Linked DNA regions of Homo sapiens: regions 1 and 2 are each reported to be linked to region 3. The links are microRNA targets in miRTarBase. Many come from high-throughput screens and were not tested one by one. Region 3 holds a microRNA gene; each other region holds the end of a gene's coding sequence.

Region 1 (7,109 bases), not on the chromosome of region 3:
CAGCAGGAGCAAGGCTAGGAGGCTGGAAACAAGCCACATCCCAAAATAGCTCTGATAACCATGGGGCAGGAGGGCCCAGCCAAGCCTCAGCCCTGACAAGCACAGCCTGCAGCTGGCCTCCCTCCCCACTGGGCCTGGGCTCAGTCCCTGGTTTCCACTGATGGCCTGTAAGGCCCACTCACTCTAGGCTTTGTGGCCCACCTGAGAAGTGGGAGGCTGGCCTGGGAGATGGGACCCTGTGACTCAGAACCCGAGGCTGTGTACAGCCCCCGTGGCTGGAGGTGGTCACAGAGGCCTGGCAGGATAGGTGCACTGGAGCAGGGGGAGGTGGCGGGAGTGGACGGCAGAGGTTGCTGCAGGCTGGCAGGAGGCCCCTGGGACCTCAGTTCTGTGCCAGGATCTGTCGGGGAATACCAGGGGTGAGCAAGTATGGAGATGGGGTGGCAGGGTGTCACCCTGGGCAGGCTCTTTTATGGGCATGTGAGGGGGTCAGGGTGGGGTCTCAAGACCTTTCCTCCAGAAACTTCAGCCCAGCAGCGCCCGTTCTTGAATCCTGGGGTTGGCCATGAGCAGGTGGGACAGAAATAGCAACAGCTGGAGACGTGTGACCTTGAAACCGGGGCACTCTGCTTGGTGGGGAGCTGCTGGAGCCTCCTTAAGGTGGTTGGGGTGGGGAGCCAGGTTCTGATGCCCCCCCCGCCCCCCCACCCCCCCCAATCCCCCGCCCCCCCACTCCCCCCACTCCCCCCCACTCCCCCCCCACTCCACTCCCCCCCACTCCCCCCCCACTCCCCCCCACTCCCCCCACTCCCCCCACTCCCCCCACTCCAGGCTATAAGCGGGACCACCTGTCCTTCAGGTTCTGCGAGACGCTGCACCTAGTGGGCTGCTGCCAGCTGCCCACTGTCCGCACCCACTGCTGCCGCTCGTGCTCTCCGCCCAGCCACGGCGCCCGCTCCCGAGGCCATCAGCGGGTTGCCTGCCACTGACCGTGCCAGGATGCACAGACCGACCAACAGACCTCAGTGCCCACCATGGGCTGTGGCGGAGCTCCTGCCCCCTACGCCCTACGCCCTACGCCCTAATGGTGCTAACCCCCTCTCACTATCCAGCGGCAGGCTGGGGACCTCCTCCCCCCTCAAAAAAAGTATTTTTTTATTCTAACAGTTTGTGTAACATTTATTATGATTTTACATAAATGAGCATCTACCATTCCAAAGCACAGCATGACTTCATCTTGGATTTGGAGAATCTTAAAAGTGAGAAACTCTTCCCCCCACTCCTCTGCCCAAAACTCCACCGCCACAGCACCTCGGCAGGCGCGGCTTTTCACCTGCTCCTCTGGGGCAGATCTGCAGGGTACAGAGCAGCAAACAAGTCCGTGAGAGCATGGCGTCTGGTGAGGCACGGGCCTTGGAAGCTGGGGGGCTGCTGCCCAGGGAGGGCTATCTGCGGAGGGTCGGGTTCTGGGGGCAGGAAGGTCTTCCGGGCAGGGGCACAGCTTGGCCCTTACTTGCTGCCTGCCTCTAGCTCGGCTCCCAGCTTTCCCTGGGGCCCCACTCTGTGGTCCTCAGAGACCTGTTCCACAGGGATTGGGCCCACCTTGTCACTTGCAGGACTGCCCCTTGGAGTGATGGGGACTGGGGCCCCCAGGGGCACCTCCCTGGGCCTGTTGTATCTGTTGACTCTTCTGCAAAAAGTAGACAGAGAAGAGAGCAGGCTGGCCCGCTGTGCTCTACTGTGTCTGTCCCAGGACTCGGAAGGTAGGGAGGGAGCGTGGCCAGGGCGGCTGCCTGCAGGTGCGTGTCCTGCTGCTCCCCAACTCAACATGCTCACCTCATTTCACACCAACAAGCCCCATCCTCAGAGGAGGAGCCCAAGGCTCTGAGAGGAAGTAACTGGCCCAAGGGCACATGCCCTGGTGACACAGGCCCATCCTAGGCCCTGACTGCCCACCTCCAAGTTCCAGGCCACCCTGAGCAGGCCCCAGTGGCAGCTTTGCACAGAGAGGGCAGCCTGCCAGAGTTCACACAGGAAAGCAAGTTGCTGGGCAAGCTAGAGTGAGTCCCAGCCCCGCTGTGCTGCCCGAGGGTAGAGGAGCGTCAGGCGTGCTTCCTGTCTGTCTGCAGCAGCCCGGCTGGCCCAAAGAGACTCTAGGGACCCAAGCTCTGAGTCATGGCTTCCCAGGCCTTAGTCAGAACGGCCCCTGGTGGCACTCCCTTCCAAGGGGTGGGGAGCAGGGCCTGTCGACTTGCTCCTGACCCACACACGGAGCCAGTCCCTGTCCCAGCTCTGCCCCAGCTCTGCCGCCGCCGCTCTGCTGCGTGACTCCAGGAACCCCCAGCCTCGCTGAATCCATGTCCGCAGAAGAGAAAAGCCTGCCAGGCCTTGGCCTGCCCTGTCTGGGAATCCTTGCTGGAGCCACCCCGAAACACCCCTATGGGAACCCCTTTGGTCTTTATCATTCTTGGGTGTTTTCCACTGATGACTGCGGGTGTGCCCAGTGGCAGCTGGGCCTGAGCTGTCAGCCCAGGCAGGAGACAAACAAGCCTGTGACTCAGGCAGGGCATGGCACAGCTGGCGGAAGGAGGCATGCCTGTTCTTTGTGGCTGGGCGGGGGGTTATCCGGACACAGGGAGTCTCCAGCTTCCGGCTTTCCCACCTCGGTGCCCCCAGCCCACACCTGCAGCTTGGCCATGGTTCTTGGGGCCTCCCAAGGCTGCCCCTGCTGGCAAAGGCATCCTGATGCACCCGCCCCAGGGTGAGCCAAGGGCAGAGACACCCAGAAACGCCAGGCTGGAAGGTTGGAGAGCCCCTCCTCGCCCCCCGCAACACCAATAAGCCCTGCCCCACCCTCCAAGCCCTTGGGGTGAGCCCCATCACCAGTGACTATAACTGAATTTCAATGCAGAATATTATACAAATTAGTAGTTTATTTCTTCCTTTAGTATTACAGTTCCAAAACGTAACTTGAAGGTCAGCACAGGAGCTGCTGTGATATAAAAGGAGAGAGTCACCTGGCGCCCCCTGCAGTCCTCCAGTTGCCCAGCAGCAGTGGGACGTTCAGTGGCACACAGTGGGTCTCTGTATGGCCTCCCACCTGCAAGGACTTCCCCGGGCAGGCCCAGCTGCCCAGAAGCCCCGGAACACACAGGAAGACAACACTATAGGATGGCAGGTGGGGATCTGTGCAATACAAACATGTAGCTAGAAAACCCAACCGAGGATCTGTCTAGAATACTTCCGATATCAATATACCGTAGTTGAAACCAGAACCGTCTCCAGCTGTCAGCAGTCTTGGCGGCTACTGTACAGCTGTCAGCATGACTACAGGCAGCGCCCGAGGCTATCTGGGGTAAGAAGTGGGCCTGCACATCACATCGGTGAGTCAGTGAGAGTCAGGGCCAGAGGGAAAAGCAACTCGGAGGCTGAGGCTGGCACAGATACACACAAGGGAGTCACACACATAACATAATAACTTGTTATATAAAATAGATATGTGGAATCTAGAAACACCTTGAGAAAATAGCCTATAAAAATATAAACTGTAGTGAGAGTGTACAAAAGTATTAACAGAGGTTCAACCCATAAAAAACCCCATCCATTTAAAAGTTGGCAATTCCTAGCAGGTGTTGGGAGGGAGCTCCCCTCGGTCCTGGTGCGCACGTTTGGACAGGCCTTTGGGTTTCCCAGCTGGCAGGGTCCCCCTTGCAGGGGCCACGGGCTGGGTGTTGGGGTGAAGGTTCAGAGGAGGAACAGCAGCTTGGGGCAGCCCCTGTCAGAAGGGCCCCCTGCCATGGCAGCCAGTGGAGGCCAGGGACCTTCAGGGCACTGGAGGGGACAGAGCAGCTCTTTCCTCAGTGACCCGAGGGAGGGGAAGTGTTAGCGCAAAAGAGTGGGGCCCACAGTCCTGGAAGGAGGAGTTGGCTCCGTCCCGTTCCCAAACTTTAACCAGGCGGAGCCGCCCTCTCTTGCCTTCTGGACACGCATCACTTGATTCCAGGCAGGAGAACCTCTGAGAAAGTGTCCCCAGTCCCTTTCCTCCAGGAACTCTCCTGCTGTCGCACACACACACTGCCCGGCAGCTGCTGACAACTGCCTGGAAACACTAACATACCACCGTGGGTTGCAGCCACGACGGGCCCCTGGTCAGGTGCATCTCTCAGGGCAAACTGGACAACACGAGCCTGTCCCTAAAGGCAGCTCTTAGCCCCAGGACATGGCAGTGTGTGCTGGCATGTTCCAGGGGCCATTGGCTCGGAAAGTAAAACCTCAGGGCCCAGCCCCATTCCTGCTGCACCTCCTCAGCAGCCGCCCCCCAGGCTGACAGCTGTCGTTTCACGATGGGCTGAGGGGTGGGGGGGGTTCCAACACTTGATTCGAGCAGACTGCAACGCCCAGCTCACAGGACAACTGAAGGAGTCAGACCTCAAACTGCTGCTCTCAAAGACAAAGACAATGACAAAACCCATTTTTGATGCCTGAAAAGAGGCAAAGGCTTCTGGCTAAATATAGAGGCCAGCTCCGTCTACCCAGTGAAACATTAGTGGAGTTGGTTAAAGACACGAAGCCGGAGCTCACTCTAGCATGTGCTGAAACACCAACTTTGCCGTGGCATTGCCAAAAAGTTGACAGCAAAAAATAGGAAAAATACTTCTTAAAACTGCATTGCTTCAATTCTTAGTCTCAGTGTGTTCACAACAAAGGATGATTTCCAGTTTTTTTCGGGTAATATGAAACATTCCACTGAGATCATTTATCTTGTATTTTCATAACACTGTGCCAGAAAACATCCTCTCACATCTACGCATCAGGGATGGTCTAGAGCGATTAAGCAAAAACAAGCTCCTTGCTCAAAGCCTCTCCCCAGCCTTCAGAAAGGCAGTCCTCTGAGTTCCCAGAAACTGCTGTGTCAGAGGCAACAGTGCCCCTGCATCCTGGCAGAGAACAAGGATGTTCCAGGCAGTGGTGGGGTGGGCACACATCTGGGAGAGCTCACCCAAGCCTGCCCCAAGCAAAAAAGTTTCCCAGCCCCAGGCACTGGCAGCCGGCCTCCTGCACAACCCAGGCAGGTGGAGACACCAGGAGCACTGGCCATCCCCAAGGAGGCCATGGTTTTCAGCTGTCCAAGAGCGTTCACGCTGCGGCTGCACCACTGCCCTGCAAAGCACCCCCGAAAACATTCCTCCATCCCCTCAACCAAGGCCAGCCCAGGCGTGGGCCTGCTTTGCAATATGACGGTCCACTGTTTACTTGGAATCCCATCCCATCGTACTTGGTGAATGATTTCCACAAGTCAAGAAGGGCATTCCACAGAATCTCACAGAGCCATGCCTGGCACGGGGCAAGCTGGGGACAGAGCAGCCCAGTGATCTGCAAACACAGGCTGGCCATGAGAAGTGAGGGTGGGTGTCTGGGCAGCCAGGCCCTCCCCATGCAGGCTGGAAGACACTGATGGAAGGGTTGCGTGTGGAAGAGCAAAGGCTATTCTAGAAATGGGGCATGGCTGGCAGCTTAAAGCCACTGGTGGGAGGTTCACAGGCTTTCCTACAGTGGCCATTTCTGAACAAGGGATGTGCCTGCTTTTCTAAGGCAGCCCCTTTTCATACCAACCTTATGCCTGAGGCAGCAACCCTCTGGCCTACAGGTGCCTAAAGCACAGCTGGCATCCTTTATAGCACTGCCATTCAAAACCACACACCACTGCCCACTATGTACAGGAGAGAGAATATGGGGAGATGCCCAGCAAAGCAAGGTTTCAGAGGGTCAGAGCACCGACAGGCTGACGGAGGCTGGAAACAGGCTCTTGCAAATAGCCACTGGTAAGCCTGAGGATCCACCAACCAGGCAGAAAGCGTGACTGAGATACGTGTAACCAAAAGCATGGCACGGAAATGGTTGTAAACAGATTAGACCTCCCACCCCTGCCCCCCGCACAGTGGGAAATGAGGAAGGGCAGCCTGGCTTGGGACATCTGCCCAGCAGATCCCCAGAGGACACACACGTTACATTCTGGCTTTTAAGTGCACTTTCACCCTTTGGGCACACTTTGGTTGTGAAGGAAGGAAGAGCAGCATCCCGAGCCCACTCAGGTATCCTCCTCCTCGTCACTGACCAGCTCACCCTTGTCAGGGCTGGTGTCCCGCTCACGCAGGAAGTCCTCACGGATGGCCTCCAGCTCGGTCAGCTCCAGCCGGACTTTCTCCAAGTGGTAGGCGCGTCGGTTCCGGATCTGGCGTAGGGGGAAAGGGTTCAGGTCCCCAAAGGAGATACTGATCAGCTTCCTGGCAGGACGCAGGGGAGAGACAAGAGAATCAGCGGCGCTCCAGAGAGTGCTCACACACAGCCCTCACAGGCATAGCAGGTGGCCTGGGGCAGGGTGGGAAGAGCGCTGGCCAGGCTTGGGGCCTGATGTAGGGGATGAGGCCCACCTTCTGTAGAGAGGTGACAAAGCACAATGGCCCAGCCAGGGGCAGGCTCAGAATGACGACCTGGACTCCAGCTCTGCCACATGCTTGCTGTGTGACTGAAGTCACCCCCCTTTTCTGGCCTCTGATCTTCATCTGCACACTGGGGTAAGAGTAGTGCCACCTCCTAGGGTGTGGGATTACTCGTGTTCCCACACATAAGCCCTGAGAAGAGCTCCCGGCACTTGCATGGTGATGGCAGGTATGTCTTCATCCTTGGGCGGGCATGAGGCCTGGCACCGGGCACGAGTCCGGGACGTCTGTGTCCCAGGACTCATTGACTGGGAATGAACACAGGCCCAGGCAGTCCTGGCGATGACTGTCAGACCCAGTTGGCAATGTGACAAGTGTCCAGATGCAGTCTACAGAGAAATGTGCAGCTTGTGGGTTTCACATCCCCAGGTCAAGGCTCCAATTTTCAATAAAAATGTTAAGGTTATGATCCACTTGCTCCTAACCACTGGTCAGTGGCTTAATAAAAACAAGACCAAAAGCTGTCCTGAGGCCTGGCTATGGATTTGTAGCACTAATGGGTCAGCCACACTGGTCTCTGGGGATCACAAAATAGGCCAGTTCCTAGGGCCACCTTCTTCCCCTCTCTGGATTCTGCCAGGCCCCAAATGCTTTGTATCCACCAACATG
Region 2 (7,109 bases), not on the chromosome of region 3:
AAAGGCACCCAGAGCTCTCCTGCCATTATTCACGCAGCCACCTGGATTTCTCACCATCCCCAGAGGGTCTTCCTTTTAGGGTCCTAAGCTCTTACCCTATGCACCTGTGAGCCTGGGACACAGTGGCCACCCAATAAGTGTTGGTTGAGGCCAGTACTCCATAGACTATGAGAAAAGGCTTGAAGTCATTTGAGAGAGATCTTCCACCGAACCCAAGACAAGCACTGGCCATGCCTCCTTCCCAGCATTGCCCCTGCCCTCTGTGGTCCATTCGGGACTTGCTCCATTCCCAGCCTCTCTCTCTCTCTCTCTCTCTCTCTCTCTCTCTTTGCTTTCAATCTTTAGACCCTACGTGGACCTCGTGAACTTGCTGCTGACCTGTGGGGAGGAGGTGAAGGAGGCCATCACCCACAGCGTGCAGGTTCAGTGTGAGCAGAACTGGGGAAGCCTGTGCTCCATCTTGAGCTTCTGCACCTCGGCCATCCAGAAGCCTCCCACGGCGCCCCCCGAGCGCCAGCCCCAGGTGGACAGAACCAAGCTCTCCAGGGCCCACCACGGGGAAGCAGGACATCACCTCCCAGAGCCCAGCAGTAGGGAGACTGGCCGAGGTGCCAAGGGTGAGCGAGGTAGCAAGAGCCACCCAAACGCCCATGCCCGAGGCAGAGTCGGGGGCCTTGGGGCTCAGGGACCTTCCGGAAGCAGCGAGTGGGAAGACGAACAGTCTGAGTATTCTGATATCCGGAGGTGAAATGAAAGGCCTGGCCACGAAATCTTTCCTCCACGCCGTCCATTTTCTTATCTATGGACATTCCAAAACATTTACCATTAGAGAGGGGGGATGTCACACGCAGGATTCTGTGGGGACTGTGGACTTCATCGAGGTGTGTGTTCGCGGAACGGACAGGTGAGATGGAGACCCCTGGGGCCGTGGGGTCTCAGGGGTGCCTGGTGAATTCTGCACTTACACGTACTCAAGGGAGCGCGCCCGCGTTATCCTCGTACCTTTGTCTTCTTTCCATCTGTGGAGTCAGTGGGTGTCGGCCGCTCTGTTGTGGGGGAGGTGAACCAGGGAGGGGCAGGGCAAGGCAGGGCCCCCAGAGCTGGGCCACACAGTGGGTGCTGGGCCTCGCCCCGAAGCTTCTGGTGCAGCAGCCTCTGGTGCTGTCTCCGCGGAAGTCAGGGCGGCTGGATTCCAGGACAGGAGTGAATGTAAAAATAAATATCGCTTAGAATGCAGGAGAAGGGTGGAGAGGAGGCAGGGGCCGAGGGGGTGCTTGGTGCCAAACTGAAATTCAGTTTCTTGTGTGGGGCCTTGCGGTTCAGAGCTCTTGGCGAGGGTGGAGGGAGGAGTGTCATTTCTATGTGTAATTTCTGAGCCATTGTACTGTCTGGGCTGGGGGGGACACTGTCCAAGGGAGTGGCCCCTATGAGTTTATATTTTAACCACTGCTTCAAATCTCGATTTCACTTTTTTTATTTATCCAGTTATATCTACATATCTGTCATCTAAATAAATGGCTTTCAAACAAAGCAACTGGGTCATTAAAACCAGCTCAAAGGGGGTTTAAAAAAAAAAAACCAGCCCATCCTTTGAGGCTGATTTTTCTTTTTTTTAAGTTCTATTTTAAAAGCTATCAAACAGCGACATAGCCATACATCTGACTGCCTGACATGGACTCCTGCCCACTTGGGGGAAACCTTATACCCAGAGGAAAATACACACCTGGGGAGTACATTTGACAAATTTCCCTTAGGATTTCGTTATCTCACCTTGACCCTCAGCCAAGATTGGTAAAGCTGCGTCCTGGCGATTCCAGGAGACCCAGCTGGAAACCTGGCTTCTCCATGTGAGGGGATGGGAAAGGAAAGAAGAGAATGAAGACTACTTAGTAATTCCCATCAGGAAATGCTGACCTTTTACATAAAATCAAGGAGACTGCTGAAAATCTCTAAGGGACAGGATTTTCCAGATCCTAATTGGAAATTTAGCAATAAGGAGAGGAGTCCAAGGGGACAAATAAAGGCAGAGAGAAGAGACAGAACTAAAAATACGAGGAAAGGAGAGTGAGGATTTTCATTAAAAGTCTCAGCAGTGGGTTTCTTGGGTTATTTAAAACATCACCTAAATAGGCCTTTTCTTCCTAATTGGCCATCAAATTAAAGCCTATCCTTTCTCAAGCAGGAGCTGGTATTGTAGGGAGTGGCCGGGTATTCTGGGCTGGGCTCTTCTGGAGTAGGGGGTCAGCAAACATTGTCTGCAAAGGGCCAGATACTGAATCCAGTACTTTCAGTTTGGCGAGCCGTGAGGTCTCTGTCGAAACTACTCAACTCTGCCGTCCTAGCACAAAAGCAGCCATAGACAACACACAAACGAGAGGGCTTGGCTCCCTTCCAGGAAGATTTATTTAACAGGCTCCCAGCTGAATTTCACTCACAGGACACAGTTTACTGATCTCTGTTCTAGTGAGTGGGTCAAAAAGCATATGCATCCTTATCCGTCAACTCATCAGCTCTTCCTCAAGGCAACCTGAGGCCAGACACCAAGAAACCAAGCGTATCTGCTCTAAAATGACTTGTTCCTGGGGAATGCCTTCAACCAAAACACAGCTAGTATTTCTATGCCCCAAATCCAATCCCAGTCTTTCATGATCCATGCCGGCGGTTGGGTGGGGAGGGGAATCATTGGTTGGGGGAAGGGAGGAAACCCCACCTCCAGCCCCCGCCACCGGGCTCCCTGGGCACCCAGCAAGATCTGGGGCTGCAGAGAACAGAAGAGCTGGTGCACTTAATCCAGCTCTGCCCTTGGGGGGAGGAGGACCTGTGTGTCAGGCTCTGCCATGGGAACGAGTGTAAACCGTGGCTGTCTCCTGCAGTGAGCCACCGCGGCAGGCACGTTGACTGTTTTACTGACATCACTCAAAAGCTAAAGCAATAACATTCTCCTGCGTTGCTGAGTCAGCTGTTCATTTGTCCGCCAGCTCCTGGACTGGATGTGTGAAAGGCATCACATTTCCATTTTCCTCCGTGTAAATGTTTTATGTGTTCGCCTACTGATCCCATTCGTTGCTTCTATTGTAAATATTTGTCATTTGTATTTATTATCTCTGTGTTTTCCCCCTAAGGCATAAAATGGTTTACTGTGTTCATTTGAACCCATTTACTGATCTCTGTTGTATATTTTTCATGCCACTGCTTTGTTTTCTCCTCAGAAGTCGGGTAGATAGCATTTCTATCCCATCCCTCACGTTATTGGAAGCATGCAACAGTATTTATTGCTCAGGGTCTTCTGCTTAAAACTGAGGAAGGTCCACATTCCTGCAAGCATTGATTGAGACATTTGCACAATCTAAAATGTAAGCAAAGTAGTCATTAAAAATACACCCTCTACTTGGGCTTTATACTGCATACAAATTTACTCATGAGCCTTCCTTTGAGGAAGGATGTGGATCTCCAAATAAAGATTTAGTGTTTATTTTGAGCTCTGCATCTTAACAAGATGATCTGAACACCTCTCCTTTGTATCAATAAATAGCCCTGTTATTCTGAAGTGAGAGGACCAAGTATAGTAAAATGCTGACATCTAAAACTAAATAAATAGAAAACACCAGGCCAGAACTATAGTCATACTCACACAAAGGGAGAAATTTAAACTCGAACCAAGCAAAAGGCTTCACGGAAATAGCATGGAAAAACAATGCTTCCAGTGGCCACTTCCTAAGGAGGAACAACCCCGTCTGATCTCAGAATTGGCACCACGTGAGCTTGCTAAGTGATAATATCTGTTTCTACTACGGATTTAGGCAACAGGACCTGTACATTGTCACATTGCATTATTTTTCTTCAAGCGTTAATAAAAGTTTTAAATAAATGGCTTCCACTTGAGTAGCGTCATTGTCTGAGAGGGTCATTGATGTCCGGTGCACAGGGGGACAGCTGTGAGCAAGTGGGCTTTTACGTCAAGAGAATCCTATGCTTCTGTGGATGTTCAGCCTACAGGGAAGGAAGTTAGATGAAGAGGACTACCCTAGGCTTCTCCGTCAGAGGGACCCTGTCCAAGCCCCTGCCTGAGTCACCCAGACAAGGAGGAGAATAAATTTCATGCAGTTGGCCTGGAAGTGCCACCCCCACACCCCATTAGGCAGGTCCTTAAGGCTCACTCTGGTCTCACCTTTGAGTCTCCCCTGTGAGTCTCCCCTGTGGCTTGGCCACCCCTTCTCTCAGACTGAGCCTGCAGCAGACACCACCAGCTTAACAGCTGAGTGGCCTGGCATATAGAGGGAAGCCCACTGCCTCCTCCCCAGCTCTTGCTCACGACAGCAGAACAGAGCTGGAGCCCCTGGTTTACGTGATCTGTGCCACTGTTGGTGTACCTACTATGTTCCAGGCACCACAGTAGGCATTTTGCATGCATTATTTCATCCTCATTACATCCCACAAATAATAGGTATTATCCTCATTCTACAGGTGAAGAAACTGAGGTACAGACTTGTCCCAAACTGTGTGGCTAGTGAGTGGGGTGGGGTCTGAACTCAAACTCAGATCAGGACTCCTAAGCCCACACACCTTCCCCTACTTCAGGCCTAGAATCTCCACTTTAAATTTATTTTTAAGTTAAACCAATCAGTGTTATGCCTATTTTACACGAGGCTTGGGGAAAGAATAATTATACTCTTACATTTATAGTTCCAGGCCTCCAAGGAGTTCTGCTTCAAAATGGAAAGGAAAGTTAATGCTCTCACCTTTACTCTCTGCAAAGACTCAAATTTTGGTTCCGATAAGGAAAGCAGGAGAATCGTGGAGCCTCCTCATTTTTCTTTGCATGTGGATAATTTTTTATAAGATTCTTCTCATGCACCACTGGGAAAGCATTTGGGGAGCATCTGGTTTTCTTGAAACATGCAGCTGGAGCTTTCCTCACTAAACTCACCCCATCACCTTTCTGAGAAGCCAGCCTCCTCCAAACCCTTCACCAACATCATCACCCTCATCAGGACAGCTGCAGATTCCTGGGGACCCATGATGTGCTCCGTGCCTTGCCTGGTGCTTTAGGGATATTATTTCTGAAACCCATTTTAAAGATAAAGAAACTGAGGCTTCATGACATTTAATATGCCTGGAGCCAGTCACAAGGCTAGTGAGCTCTAGAGTCAGCATGCAAATGCACCCCTCCACCTTGTCTTCTTGCACTCCAAGTGTGAACACATGGGTTAAATGCACCCAAATGAGTCGAGAAATTCAGCTGCCTCCCTCTAAGCCCCAAGGTTGTTCCAATCCAACTGTTCTGGAATTATTAGGCTGTGGGAGGAAGAAGTCAGAGAGCTTCCAAATATGCTGGGATTTAAGCAGAGTTTCCAAAGGAAGCTGGATCTATGCACCCCAAAATCTGGACACAGAAAACCAAATTGGTTCTAAAGTCAACAAAAAAGAAAGCCCCCTGCTGAGGAGGCGACAACCCCTGGCCAGAGAACAGTTTTTATGTGAATTATTTTTTGTGGGTGGAGAAGAGAAGAAAAGAGCAATAGAAGCCTTGGGCTAGGAGTCCCGTGTTGCTGCTTGCATAAGCAGTTCAGTTTTTATCACTCCCCAAAAAGAACAACAAAAAAAAGTCACTTCCCAAAGAGTACAGAAAAAAAAAAGTCACAAAGCCAACCTAGGCTTATGCATGAAATGGACTCCACACCAGGATGAACCCAGATCTCATGGCACCTTAGAATCTGTAACCACCTTGCCACCATTGAACATCACGCCTGAGCTAAAACTTGGGAGAAACAAGGAAAGCTCCTACATGGAATTCTCAGAGGCAGGGTATTGTTCACAAGGTAATGAGGAGAATCAGCTGGTTCCGTTTCCCATTCGATAAATTCCAGGAATTTTTATGGTTCTTAAAACTAAGGGGGAATGCACATGTAAAAAAGCAGTGGCATGCTAAAGAGGACAGGGACCACCTGCTTGTCCCCTGAGATATGAATAATGTTCTGCAAAGGGCCAAGGGCTCCAAAGAGGGCTTTGTTCAGAAAGAATGATCAGTCCCTAGAATTCTGTCCCAGATGTTTATTGCTGTTTAACAAAACTACTCCTGAAGCTTAGTAGGTATAAAACAACTATTTTATTTTGCTCATAATTTTACAGGTCAGAAATTTGGAAAGGGTGGTTAGACTCTTCACATGGTGGTGGCTGGGGCAACCGGGGCTGGAGGATCCACTTCCAAGATGACCTTCCCAAGATGGTGCCTCGGTGCTCCAGGCCTCCTCTCTTCTCCCGTCCCACCTCTCCCACAGTCCCCATTGTGGTGCCTCATCCCCCGAGGCCTGTCAGAGCATGGCCGTCCGGGGGTAGTCTCACTTCTTCCATAGTGACTGGCTTCCCTCAAGACAGGCTGGAGGATCTTACACCATACTCTTCAAATCTAAGCTGTTTTCACCCTTGGTACTATAAGAACCACAGGTTCTAAACTCCATGAGGACAGAGGCTATGTCATTTTTTGTACACAGTTGCCTGTATCCCCAGCAGCTCTGCCATTGCTCGGTGTGAGTGAATGAATGAATGAACGAATGAATGAAAGAAACCTCTTGTCTAAAATGGTGCCAAAATGTCAAATCAGATGAGTTTCAATTTACTTTAACTTCTAAAGCAAATATATCCTTGCATCCTTGTACAAGGGATCAACATGTCATAGAATCAGTGAGAGGGTGTCAAAATTAAAAATCGCTGGGAAGCCTGTAATTTTGAAGTCAGGAGACATAGACAGGGGTACCAATCCAGCCACCTACTCATCTTGCACCAGGTAAATCTCTTTGGGGATAAGAAGGAAATATAACTAATGACTGAAAAAATCAGGACTGGCCCTGAGACCTTGGCGAATCGGTTCCATTTTCTAAGCCTGTTTCCTTAGCTACAAAATAAGGAAACCAACAGCTATCCTGCTTTTCTCAGGGGGATGGAGGGCAGTTGAAGATAAAATGACTTAAGCTATATAAAAAGTCACAAAGCCTAGGAAATGCTTTGAAGACGATGACATGCCACGTAAAGGGTGGTGGTTATTTCTCTCGGCCATTTCAGAAGACAGTGGCCTAAAGCCAAGATCACGGATGGGATGAGCTGCCTCATGC
Region 3 (7,116 bases):
GGATTTGGGCTTGCATTAGGTGATTTGGACGAGGGCTTAAGAAAATGGGGTTTTCTGGATTGGATGCTGCCTATGAGTGAGTACCTTGATAAACATTATTTAGAAGGAGGGAAGAGTAGACCGAGGCTAAATCTATAATCTCTATACAAGCCAGAATAGGGAAATGTTTGGCCATTTTTGTAGTTCGAACAATGCTCATGTTTTGTCTGGGTTTAGACATGATTCAAGTGGTTTTGTTATTGTCTTGATCCATCATGGTCACATAGTGGCTTTGTTTGATGTTGATGTTCTGTGAAGTTTTTATGTTCAATAAGAGAACACACCAAGGTCTATTTGTGAGTGCCAGACCATCTCCTGGATGTCAGGGGCTGTTTTTCTCTTAGCGCTTGGTTTCAAATCCAGGTTTGTGTGACTGGAAACATCCCTTGTATTACTTCTTGATCACAGGAACTTGCAAAGGTGGCTGGCAGACTAGGACTTTCATCTATGAGCTTATTTCATCTACTATTTTTTATTTTTTTTTCTGAGATGGAGTTTCACTCTTGTCGCCCAGGCTGGAGTGCAATGGCACGATCTTGGCTCACTATAACCTCTGTCTCCTGGGTTCAGGCAATTCTCCAGCCTCAGCCTCCCAAGTAGCCGGGATTACAGGTGCCCGCCACCACGCCTGGCTAATTTTTGTATTTTTAGTAGAGATGAGTTTCACCATGTTGGCCAGGCTGGTCTCGAACTCCTAACCTCAGGTGATCTGCCTGCCTCGACCTCCCAAAGTGCTGGTATTATAGGCGTGAGCCACCGCGCCGGCCTTTATCTACTATGTTCACCTCCTACTCAGGTCCGATCCCTAACCGTTCCTGGGATAACTGTAGGTACTTAATAAATGCTTGTTGAATGAATGAAGATGGCTGTCAAGAACTCCAATGACTGCTTGAGTGCAAATCACAAGCTCCATCACCTATCAGTATGTGATTTGATACAATATGTATTAACAGCTAATCCACAATCCATATTCAAATTTCATTACTTGTCCCAATATTGTCCATTACAACTATTCCACCACCACCACTACCCCAGTCCAGGGTCCTATTTAGAATCACACACCACATTTTGTTGTCATGCTTCTTTAGTCTCCTTTAAACTGGAACAGTTCCTCAGCTTTTCTCTGTTTTTCATGACAATGAGTTATTTTGTAGACAGTGTCCTTCATTTGGGGTTCTCTAGCACTTCCTCATGAGATGTGTACGGTGCACTTTTGACAGAAATACCACAGATGTGTTCTCAGTGCATTTTATTAGGAGGCCCTTGATCTGACCCATTAACTAGTGGTGTTAACTTTGATCACTTTGATCTGTTTGTTCTGCTAGGTTAAACCTCTGTAACATCACCATTTTCCCTTTGTAATCAATAGCTAATTTATGGGAGACACTTTTGCTGTTGTAAACATCCCGTTTCTCTAGTTTTACCACACATTATTGATTTCCTAATTCCACCATGTTTATTAGCTAGCATTCTACTAAAAGGAAGACTTTCCCTTCACCCATTAATATGCTCACTTCTTTATGTTTGTAAAGACTCATGGATTACTATTTTATTCAATTAGTTATACTCTATTACTATCACTCCATATTTTGATTCTGAAATTGCCCTGACTTGGCCAGTAAGATCTCCTTAAAGACAGCTCCTGTGTTCTTTGACACATTCCCATGATTCTTATTACCATCATCCTTATATTCTGGTGTAACAAGATGTTCCAAGTTTATCTGGTACTTTCCGGAATGAGTTAGTTCTTTCTCTCTCTCTTTTTTTTTTTTTTTTTTGACGGAGTCTCACTCTGACGCCCAGGCTAGAGTGCAGTGGTGCGATCTCAGCTCACTGCAACCTCCGCCTCCCGGGTTCAAGCGATTATCCTGCCTCAGCCTCCCGAGTAGCTGGGATTACAGGTGTGCGCCACCACGACCGGCTACTTTTTGTATTTTGAGTACAGAGGGGTTTCACCATTTTGGCCAGGCTGGTCTCGAACTCCTGACCTCAAGTGATCCATCCGCCGCGGCCTCCCAAACTGCTGGAATTACAGGTGGGAGCCACCGCGCCCGGCCGGAATCAGTTTTTTTCTTTTAGGAGCCCCGAACCCAAAGCTCTTTGAAAAGCTGCCGAAGCTCCAAGGTTCCTCCGCTTCCTGCCCGCAGGCGGAACCTTAGAGCTTCAGCCATGGAAATTAACCTCTTCCGGTTGGGGCCGGAAGTCCCTCCGAGAGGGGCGGCTCCGCGTCATGTGACTGGAGTCCGCGTAGGAGGGGTCGGAGGTCTTACCCAACAGATTGACGCGGCGTTAGTATTGGCCGTGTACCCGAAAAACTGATTGACTGGGCTGGCGTTAACTGTGCGGAGGCAGGTATGTGAGGGGCTGGGGTTGGGGCGGGGGCGCCAAAGTTTAGGGACGGGGGCGGGAGACCCGGGTCCGCCTTCCCAGGACACACGGGCTTGAACATCTGAGCCCAGGGGCCCAGAGACAGCAAGACCGGTCGTGTCTGTCCCCGAAAAGAGGACGAGCTGGCGTTGTGGTTCTGCGTCCCATGAATACAGATTGGGGAAACTGAGGCCTTGCGAAAGAGAAGGGCTCCCACAAGCTCTCCTTTCGAGGCATGGGCACTGATTCCCATTCTATCCCCCGTGCGAGACCGCCTCTATCATCTGGGAGTGCATTTCACGAGTTTGCCCTGAGTGGAGAAGCAGAGGCCGGGGAGCGCGGTGAACAGAGTTGGGCTGAAAGTAAGAGACCTGGATTCGAGACTTCGCCACCGACAGACAATTGTGCGTTCTGGGCCAAATCTCTTCCCTGTGCTGGGCCTCAGTTTTCTCGTCTCTAAAACGGGGCAGTGTTTTTCAAAATATGGTTCTTACACCATCTGCTTTGTAATTCTCTGAGATGCCGGCTTTACAGCGCGGGACTCAATTCAGACTTCTGGTTTAGAATCTGAACTTATGCGTAGGGGGGTCCTGTATATACTAATGTTTGAAGCTCATTGATTTTAAGTGCTTTCCTGCTGTGAGCACTAGATATCCATTCTTCGCTTTGAGGCAGCTGGTGCCAGTTCAGGAACTTTGAAAGAACTGGAATGGTTAGCTCAGTAAAGAGAGCACTGGAAGGGAATTAACTTTTTAAAAATTGAAAATACTGTTACGGCAAAGAGGGCTTCCACTTCATCTTTAGGCTAAAAGAGGCAGAACTAGGACTAACAGGTGAATTCTACAGGAAGGCAAGATTTTTGCTTAATAGAAGAACTTAAATGGAAGAATCGTCAGAGGTGACCACCGATGGAGTGAATGGATTGCCTCCGTGCCTCCTTTCGAGGGAGGTATATAGGTATTAGATGAAGGTCCTTTCCAACTTGAAAGTCTGTGATTCCAAGGAGTTGTTCTGCATCTTTCTGGTGCTGACTCTGCTCTCAAGGCAAATGTGACTTTTTTCTTCTCTTTTGACACTTCCATCACTTTAGCCTACATCTCCTGTAAATAAGGCCAATGCATCTGACCTTACATAATCTCTTCCTGGTTGTCCTGTGCACCATCCTTCTTTTCAAGGACTTTGGAATGACCCAATATCTGATAGAGGCACCTTAAATGTTTATTGAATGAATAAGTAAACTGGGTCCCACCCCATGGGTTAGTAGCTTTTTTCTAAGAACAAGTTGGAAATGCCTCTGAAGATTTTATGTTTGACCAGGAGAAGCCAGTGAACTCTGAATCACAAAATTGAGGACTCTCAGTTGAAAGCACCCCTTGAGGTTGTTCAGACCAGCCTTCTCTTCCCTGGAACATAATCCCTGCTTGAATCCTCTCTTCAGCAATATGTGTATAGATGTGAGAGAATTTTTGCAGTCTGTTGGCTAGCTTTCCATGCATCATATAAAAACAGTCCTCTTATAGACTTGACTTGCCAGTTCACACACATGACAAGTTCCAGCTTTTTTTTTTTTTTTTTTGAGTATTTAGTAGAGATGGGGTTTCACCATGTTGGCCAGGCTGGTCTCGAACTCCTGACCTCAAGTGATCCGCCTGCCTCAGCCTCCCAAAGTGCTGGGATTTCAGGTGTAAGCCACTGTGCCTGGCCTCTAGCATACCTTTGGTTTTCTAATCAAACATTATTATGTCCTTATTTTGTGCATTACAAAGCTCTGCCTAAATCACTTTTTCAACACCTGCTAGAATGCTTAGGAATGTTTATGTTGTCTTAGGGAGCAGAGGCTCCATATTATGACCCAGTTCTGCTGACTTGCTCCCCCGCCGCCACAAAAGTTAGGGTTGAGCCAAAACTTCCTGCCAGTTATCGACTTGTGTTTCCCAAGATTAAAAAATAAAAAAGTTGTGAAATGCTTATTCAGATGTTATCCAGGTACTGGGTAAAATGATCTTAATTTGTTGGAGTTTTTAGAACTTCTCGATCTAAAAGTTTCCTTTTAAAGAAGTGTCTGAATTGACATTCTCATAAGTATGTTCTTCAGGCCACTGGTCTGAAGAAGTGGCTCTGAAAAAAGGATTTGATGCTAATAATAAGTTTGAGAAAGCCACATACCATTATTCTTTCTTGGAGCTTCTCAATGTGTAATACCACATTAAAACCACTGAGAGGTCCTGCAATAAGGAAATGTGCCTTATAAGCCAAGATAATAACTTGTTCCATTTGTTTAATCTACTTGATGTCAAATCTTTTTTTTTTTTTTAATTGAAGCACACGTTAGCAAATTCTGACCTAGAGTGGGGATCTGCATACTATATATAGGCTGTGAACCAAACCTGGACCTACTGCTTGTTTATATGGTCTGTGAGCTAAGGGTGCTTTTTACATTTTTCTTTCTTTTTTTTTTTTTTTTAAGACGGAGTCTCGCTCTGTTGCCCAGGCTGGAATGCAGTGGCTCCATCTCAGCTCACTGCAAGCTCCGCCTCCTGGGTTCATGCCATTCTCCTGCCTCAGCCTCCCGAATAGCTGGGACTACAGGCGCCCACCCCGATGACTGGCTAATTTTTTGTATTTTTAGTAGAGGTAGGGTTTCACTGTGTTAGCCAGGATGGTCTTGATCTCCTGACCTCGTGATCTGCCCGCCTCAGCCTCCCAAGGTGCTGGGATTACAGGCGTGAGCCACCACGTCTGGCCTGCTTTTTACATTTTTAAATGATGGGAAATAAAAGAAGAATAATATTACATAGGTGACAATTACAGGAAGATAAAATTTCAGTGTTCATTTCAGTCACACCCATTTATTTATATTCATATATATTTACATATTGTCTTTGGGTGCTTTAATGCTACTCAGTGGAGTTGATTACTTCCCATAAAAACCATATGGTCCACAGAGTCTGAAGTATTTACTCTATGGCCCTTTATGGAAAAAAAATTGCCAATTCCTGACCTGCATCGTGTACATTTTTTTTTTTTGAGACAGTGACTCGCTCTGTTGCCCAGGCTGGAGTGCAGTGGCACGAACATAGCCTACTACAGCCTTGACCTCCTGGGCTGAAGCCATCTTCCCACCTCAGCCACCCGAGTAGTTGGGACTACGGGCACACACCACCACACCCAGCTAACTTTTAGGTTTCTTGTAGAGATGAGGTCTCACTATGTTGCCCAGGCTGGTCTCAAATCTCCGAGCTCAAATGATTCTCCTGCCTCAGCCTCTCAAAGTGCTAGGATTACAGGTATGAGCCACCACTCCCAGCCATGTATTGTTTTTTAACTTTTTATTTTATTTTATTTATTTATTTATTTATTTATTTATTTATTTGAAACGGAGTCTCACTCTGTCCTCCAGGCTGGAGTGCAGTGGCGCAATCTCGGCTCACTGTAACCTCCACCTCCCGGGCTCAAGCAATTCTCCTGCCTCAGCCTTCTGAGTAGCTGGGACTACAGGTGCACGCCACCTTGCCTGGCTAATTTTTGTATTTTTAGTGGAGACGGGGTTTCACCATGTTGGCCAGGATGGTCTCAATCTCCTGACCTCAAGTGATCCACCCACCTCAGCTTCCCAAAGTGCTGGGATTACAGGCTTGAGCCACCGTGCCTGGCCCCTTATTATTATTATTATTATTTTTTAGATGGAGTTTCACTCTTGTTGCCCAGGCTGGAATGCGGTGGGACAGTCTCAGCTCACTGCAACCTGTGCCTCCCAGGTTCAAGCGATTCTCCTGCCCCAGCCTCCCAAGTAGCTGGGATTACAGGCATGTGCCACCACACCTGGCCAATTTTTGTATTTTTAGTAGAGGTGGGTTTCACCGTGTTGGCCAGGCTGGTCCTGAACTCCTGACCTCAGGTGATCCACCCGCCTTGGCATCCCAAAGTGCTGGGATTACAGCCGTGAGCCACTGCGCCTGGCCTTTTTATTTTGAAATAATTTTACTCTTATACTAAACTTGCAAAAATAATTCACAAACTTTCTGTATATCTGTCATCTAACTTCACCTAATGTCAAAACTGTACATAATTATATCAGAATTATCCAAACAAGAAATTTAACATTAATACAATATTACTAGCTAATCTAGAGACTTTATTCAGATTTTGCTATTTGTCCCACTGTGTCCTTTTTCTGTTCCAGGACCCAATCCTGGATCCTACATCACATTTAGTTGTCAAGTCTCCCTGGTCTCATCAGATATCTGGGACAGTTCCTCATTGTCTTTTTTTTTTTTTTTTTTTTTTTGAGACGGAGTCTCACCCTGTCACCCAGGCTGGAATACAGTGGCATGATCTCAGCTAACTGCAACCCCCCTCCCGGGTTCAAGCGATTCTCCTGCCTCAGCCTCCTGAATAGCTGCAATTACAGGCGTGTGCCACCATGCCCAGCTGTTTTTTGTATTTTTAGTAGAGTGGGGTTTCACCATGTTGGGCAGGCTGGTCTTGAAGTCCCAACCTCAGGTGATCCACCTGCCTCGGCCTCCCAAAGTTCTGGGATTACAGGTGTGCCACCACACCCGGCCTGCATTTGCACTAAAATTTATTTTTTTTTTAATTGTTTGTTTTTGAGATGGAATTTCACTCTTATTGCCCAGGCTGGAGTGCAGTGGCGCAATCTTGGCTCACCGCAACATCTGCCTCCCAGGTTCAAGCGATTCTCCTACCTCA

The links. The annotated mature microRNA hsa-miR-3928-3p reads GGAGGAACCUUGGAGCUUCGGC and lies in region 3 at 2,150-2,171, opposite strand. An mRNA with a match to its seed (bases 2 to 7 or 8) in the 3' UTR can be bound and repressed. Matches are read on the target gene's strand: a 7mer-m8 pairs with bases 2 to 8, a 7mer-A1 pairs with bases 2 to 7 and ends in A, and an 8mer does both.
Region 1: the mRNA of TBC1D2B is a reported target of hsa-miR-3928-3p. Seed matches in the 3' UTR shown: 7mer-A1 at 5,947-5,953 and 7mer-m8 at 3,751-3,757.
Region 2: miRTarBase lists STC2 as a target of hsa-miR-3928-3p. Seed matches in the 3' UTR shown: 7mer-A1 at 2,514-2,520.

Annotation. Positions count from the first base shown.
Region 1 is chr15:77,992,072-77,999,180 of GRCh38, forward strand. It overlaps TBC1D2B (TBC1 domain family member 2B), which reads right to left. Exons shown (of 13, transcript NM_144572.2): 13 at 2,914-6,284. The coding sequence ends at 6,089. LOC91450 (a long non-coding RNA gene) reads right to left here and starts at 2,154. Exons shown (of 1, transcript NR_026998.1): 1 at 1,162-2,154. It also overlaps the pseudogene ADAMTS7P3.
Region 2 is chr5:173,311,486-173,318,594 of GRCh38, reverse strand. STC2 (stanniocalcin 2) reads left to right here. Exons shown (of 4, transcript NM_003714.3): 4 at 346-3,872. The coding sequence ends at 748. Among named protein-coding and RNA genes, the nearest start is that of MIR12118, 11 kb to the right of the region's middle. RefSeq lists an enhancer at 539-1,738.
Region 3 is chr22:31,157,913-31,165,028 of GRCh38, forward strand. It overlaps MIR3928 (microRNA 3928), which reads right to left and starts at 2,207; the gene lies at 2,150-2,207. RNF185 (ring finger protein 185) reads left to right here and starts at 2,270. Exons shown (of 7, transcript NM_152267.4): 1 at 2,270-2,391.